Linked DNA regions of Homo sapiens: region 1 is linked to region 2. The links come from fine-mapping of genetic effects on gene expression. A gene starts in region 2. The other region holds a variant in brackets. All regions are shown on one strand. Distances are between the middles of the regions. Region 1 overlaps COLGALT2 (collagen beta(1-O)galactosyltransferase 2). Region 2 holds the start of COLGALT2 (collagen beta(1-O)galactosyltransferase 2).

What was found. PIP is the estimated chance that this variant, and not a neighbour inherited with it, causes the effect. A credible set is the group of variants that fine-mapping cannot tell apart.
Region 1: its variant is the best candidate, but not a certain one, in a credible set for the expression of COLGALT2 in T cells (TOPMed, PIP 0.74).

What each region holds. Positions count from the first base shown.
Region 1 is chr1:183,964,516-183,967,428 of GRCh38, forward strand. All of the region lies in intron 5 of COLGALT2 (collagen beta(1-O)galactosyltransferase 2), which reads right to left. Among named protein-coding and RNA genes, the nearest start is that of COLGALT2, 72 kb to the right of the region's middle. The variant G/GAAAATT (reference allele first, on the strand shown) is at 1,275.
Region 2 is chr1:184,036,193-184,039,105 of GRCh38, forward strand. It overlaps COLGALT2 (collagen beta(1-O)galactosyltransferase 2), which reads right to left and starts at 1,536. Exons shown (of 12, transcript NM_015101.4): 1 at 903-1,536. The coding sequence starts at 1,165. RefSeq lists a silencer at 1,259-1,348.

The DNA.
Region 1 (2,913 bases), 72 kb before region 2:
AAATTCTCCAAGATTCTCCCTGGTTTTATTGCTTCCCTTAGCAGGCATGGATTTGGAGCCAACCAACAGACATGAAACTTCCAAAATCAGTTCATATAGAGACAAAAGAGTCTGCATTTCAGAATGTCCTGTTAAGAACCTGTAGTGTGACAATACCAGAAGTATGCAATACCCTTCTCATATTCAAATTGTTCTTCATAGCCCCACCTGATAACTTGCAGAGTTATAAGGCATCTGTGTTTAACCAGACAGCTAGAAATATAGGAATCAGGATGGTCTCATACACATCATTGGTCAGCAATTGACACTCCTGATCAATGATAAGACTGCTTAGTGAAAAGGATGAGTCCGCCATGTATCCAAGCCTCTGGTCCATGTATCCAAGCCTGTGATTTGTTAATTGCGATAATTGTCAGTGTTTTCCAGAGAGATAATTATCTGCATAGGGACTCCTCTATTTTGTGCAGATGAAATTTCCTCCAGTCAGCTACATCATCTGTCAAATCAGGTGAAGCTGTCTCATGGCATTAACAGAGAGGAAGGAGAAAAGAAAATAACCTTTATTCCCTGCTTTTACTGAATCTGGCTTGAATCAAGGCTGGTCTACCAAGCACTGTCCCTTCTCTTGCCTTCACCGAGCAAACTCATTAGCTCTGCTGTTTGCCCATATGAATGCTTCTGGGGAGCTTCAAAGTGCACCTTCTTGTAAAGTCATGATGAATTCAGGAAGTGGAAGGAAAAATATATTAAAGTTGCATCTCTACCCTAATTAGGCAAACCATTTTACCATTTAACTTTCTGAGGCTTCCATAAAAAAATGATATGATACCTATCCAAATTATCCATCAAGTGTGAGGGTACAAGGAAGGCATTTTTAGACATGCAAGACCATAATATATTTACTTGCCATCATACTTTCTCAGAAAGCTGCTGGATGATGTGAGAGAAGGACGAGGAGGAAAGGAAGGAAGAGGAGGAGGAGGAAGAAGAGGAGGACGATTATAACCAACAAGAAAGATTATAAACAACATGAACAGGAGAGTCAGTGTATAAGAGAAGAGAAATAAGTCTTAGGTTGATAGCTTCAGCACCACTTGGATTAGAATATATTAGAAAGCTCCAGAACAGACGTCTTCGCAAATATGCAAAAAAGGACATCTGACAAATCTGGACATTCTGAGAGGAGTTTGAGGTAATTAGTGATTAGTTTTGGATCATACTAGTAATAATAAAACTAAGCAAAAAAGGCAATTATTAAAGGAATTGCCTCCAAA[G/GAAAATT]AATGGCAAAGGAAAACTAATCATAGCCTATGAATGACCAAGCTTGGAGTTAGGCTTGCATGATTACAACAAGAACACTGACCATCAATCTGTTTGAAATTACAATGGGAGAACAGGGTGATGAGAAGAATGTGTTTGCATGCAGAGGGCAAAAAGGAAGAAAAAGAGCTAACTCCTCACAGTCTATAGTGGAGAGTCAACAAATAATGCCCACGGTGAAGCCAGAAAATCAAGAAGTAGCAATGCATGCATATTATTTAACATGGAAGTAAATATTAGAGATAAAAGTGGTTGCCTTCTGGAGGACAGAAGTGATGCAGGGTGATGTGCAGGGGACTGTTCATTTCTTAATAAACCATGGGGAACTATATGAATACTTTCAACCATGTGCATGGGCAGTTTGATAACAGAAAATTTAAAAGAAAATGTATTAATAATTAGATAAAGTCTATGAAAGAGTCTGCACTCCCAGTGAATGCTGCTTCTGGGGAAGACAATTTTTCTTTTGAAAAAGAGAAGTGAATTACGCTACATTTTGAAGGACTGTTTTTCTTTTAAACATATTAAACATTTTCTTGTACTCATATAGTACCTTAACATTGCAGATTGATGTAATTATCCCTATCTTTGGTGATGAAAAATCAGATTCAGGCTGTCACTTGTCCAAGGTCACATAGTAAGTCATTAGTGCCAAATCTTTGTCCCTAAAGAGCCAATGCCAAGTGCTTTCTACCCAGTCAGTAATTGGAAGCTCAGTTCCAAGACCATTAGTCACTAGGGGATTGCCATCCCTCCACAAGGGGACAAATTTGATCACTACCAGTGGTGTTCAGGATCTGTCTGCCCATTGCCCATATCACTCACCTCTTTTGACTCACATCAGACATTTGGAAGACGACTGGCTGGCACTGGGATGATTCCTGTGGCCATGATACAGAACCCAGATCACTGGCCACAATGGGAGGTGAACTCTTGACCCTGGACTCATTACAGGAACAGAGACGCGCCTATGACCATATGTGCTCTCTTCTTGGGCTAGAAGGGTGGCCAAGCCCTGCTCACCAGCACACTTGGATTGCTCCTCACTCATCACCCACATGGGGCAATGGCTAGAGTCTGGGGTGAAAGATTTAGGACCAAGGTTTGTGGTTGGATGGTCCTGCCTGGGACATAGATGATACACAGCTAGGGAGCTTCAGAAGAGTGAGAACAAAAGAATACCAATCATATTTCATGAAGAAAGAGGAAAGTGCTTTGCTTTGAAACTAAGGAAGGAAGAGCCTGGAGACATGCCCTGGGCTGCACATGACTCCCAGGCTCATTCATGTTTCTCTTGAAAATACTTAGAGATAAGTACAATATTACCTTAAAATCCACAGTTGTCAAGAAAGACCTTTCATTTCCCCAAAATGACAGTGAATCTTTCCTGCCTTGACTCCTGCCCTGTTCATGGTCTGCACCGCCAGTCTGGCCCTTAGCTTTCACTGCTTCATGACTATTAGTTGTGTTTTCACATGTAAAAATCTTAACTCCCAACTAACACCGTGCCAGGAACAGAAGGAAACACTTGGGAGTTCATCCTCTCTCTTTCCTTTTCTATCTCCTCTTCCCAAATGAGTCACCAAACAACTTTGGGTGT
Region 2 (2,913 bases):
CTCAGCGGCTAACCTGGCCACCAACTAACTTCTCGCCCTCGGATCCTCGCGTTTATAAAAGGTGCGAGACGACCAAGTTCTACAAGGTGGGGCGGGCAGGCACCCGCACTTATCCCCTGGCCCTCCCCGCAGCAGACACAGGGACCAGGTCCAAGCTTCTTTCCTCCGGGGACAAAACTTGGCTGTTTATCTTTCCCAGGGCATCTTCGTCTCTCCCCGGGACGTGGAACCCCGATGCACCGGCAGGGACAGCCCGGAGCGCTCGCAGGAGACCAGGCCCACGGTGGTGCCATGGTTGGGCACACTCCGCGGGCTCCGCCCAATCTCCACCCCTAGGTCCAGGTCCCCCTAGGAGAGCTAGGAGCACATTTCCAGCCTGGAGCAGGAGCCCGGCACCGGAAAGTCAGAGCAGCGCACTGCGGCGCCCCAGCCACTGCGGAGCCCCTGGCCAACCGCAGTTACGTTCCATCTGTCGTATCTACATGGGAATACGGCGACAGGCACCCTATCCCCTCACGTCAGGGCTAGCAGTATGAGGTGGGGAAAGAGGAAACCTCGAGAGTTAAAAGCGAGGGAACTGAAAGTCCCCTTGAGGGGTGTCCCCCATGCCCCTTGTGGGACAAAGCCCCAATTCGCAGGCTACCCTCCAGAGCTCCAGCGGTCCGGTTCTCCCCATCAGCACCCTCTGCGCACACTGACCCGCGCGTCCCTCCGCAGCCTGACCGCCCGATCCGCCAGCCACCGGCGCGGGCAGCGAGGGGGTGTGTGCGCCAGATTTTCCGCGTGCCCCCCCGCCCCTCCAGCGGCTCCCTCGCCCTGCAGCTGCTGCTCCGGGCGCTGTCCGCGCTGGGCAGGCCGCCCCCGCGTCCCGCCGCGGCGGCCCGGGGCCCGTGCGCGCTCACCAGATGGCCATCCTGCTCTTGGGGTAGTCCAGCCGCTCCAGGCAGCCGAGGAAGTGCGGCAGCGTGTGCGCCGCGTTGCGGGCGAGGACCGCCACGAGCACCGTGGGGCTCTGCAGGGGCGACTCCGGGAAAACCACCGGCTCCTCTCCGTCGTCCTCCGAGTCCCGCTCGGCGACGAAGCGCGCTCGGCAGCCTTCGCGGAGCAGGGCTGAGGAGAGGAGCAGTAGCGACCAGGCGAGGGTGGCAGCAGGGCGCGCAGCCATGTTCCGGGCCGAGGCGGGCGGCGGGGAAGTCCTGGCGCGAGCGCCCGGCTGGGCTGCCTGAGGGCGGCGGCGGCTGCCGGGGAGCAAGGGGCTGCGAGGGGCGGCCGGGGGATGCGGCTTGCCGCGGCCGGCCGGCTCACACACTGGCCTCGGCGGCTGCGGTTCCCAGGACCCTCCCGCCGCCGCTGCACCGCCCAGGCCCCAGTGCGGGTGCGCAGCGTACCTGCAGCCGCTGGCGCTCCCCTGCGCCTCGGGCTCGCAGACAGTAGTGGCCGAGGGGCTGTGTGCCCTGAGTCCTGAGGAAAGTTCCTCTAGTCCAGGTTCCGCTCGTACAGCTGAGGTCTGTGGCCTTCCCTAGAGCCGCGAGTTGTGGCCCTGTCTGCCAATGAGCCTGTGAGTGTGTGTGTGTGTGTGTGTGTGTGTGTGTGTGTGTGTACATAACGGTACAACCCCAAGAAAATTTATTCTGCTTTTGCAAACCGCAGACTGAAGCCCTTCACAGTGATGCAATGTATCCAGTTTTCATAATGCACCTATTGACTGAGTAGAGTTCTAAAATGAAAAGTCTCCCCAACTATTCACGATTATGACAAACACTTGTTTAACCACCGCAAAGGCAGCATGTCGCATTTTCTTATATACTCAACTTCTGAAATTCATTCTTGACTGAGTAGACACCTAATAACACAAAGTTTGAAGACTTGGAGAATTTTGGAGCCAGATCAGACCCCGCAAAATAAAAGAAAGCCCTTGGGAGACACTGTCCTGAAGCCTCACTCTACTGTGAACCCAGTAAGCCTCCTCACAGGAGGGCTGTGAAAGAATAAATTCACTTAGCTGGTTTTCTTTTTCCGTAATAAGCCAATATGATAGAGTAACAAAGAGGGAAAATTCGCGCATGTTGGAGAGCAGAGAAGAGATAAGGAAGAAAAGAAGGGGTGAAGGAAGAACACAATTAGCACATAAAATGAAACTGCTGGCATACACTGCTAAAGGAGATTTACTTTTTTTTTTTTTTTTTTTTTGAGACAGGGCCTCACTCTGTTGCCGGGGCTGGAGTGCAGAGGCACGATCACAATTCACTGCAGCCTCGACCTCCTGGGCTCAAGCAATCCTCCCACCTCAGCCTCCCGAGTAGCTGGGACCACAGGTGTCCATCACCACGCCTAGCTAATTTTTTTTTTTTTTTTTTTTTTTGTAGAGACGGGTTTTCACCATTTTGCCCAGGCTGGTCTGGAACTCCTGGGCTCAAGTGATCTGCCCAACTCGGCCTCCCAAAGTGTTACGATTACAGGCATCAGCCACCATGCTCGGCTGGATATTTAGTTTTGAAGATATATTGTGTAGCCTTTGATAGATAAGTATGGAGGGTGTTTTGGTGCCAGTGCACATTCATGATCTCCAATCCCAACTCACCCTCAGGTCTGTCCCATAGTCTTTTTATTAGTTGTTATCAATCCTTCTCAGCAACTATTAGAAGTCTTCCCTACTGTCTTTTGAAGTATATCACCTCCTTCATCCAGCTCCCCCAACACCACTGTCTCCAACTAGCATCCCTACCAAGACCTTTCTTACTTGCAGGTGCCTCCTCACGACAGGGTCTTTGATCACAGACTAGAAAGGGAGAGGTCTCCCTTTCTAGCCCATGATTTTTCTCTATCATTCCACTCTCTACTGAATCTTCAACTGATCTCTATCAACTCCTTTCTCTCAAGCTAAATACTTGGTCAGTCTTCTCTTATCCGTTA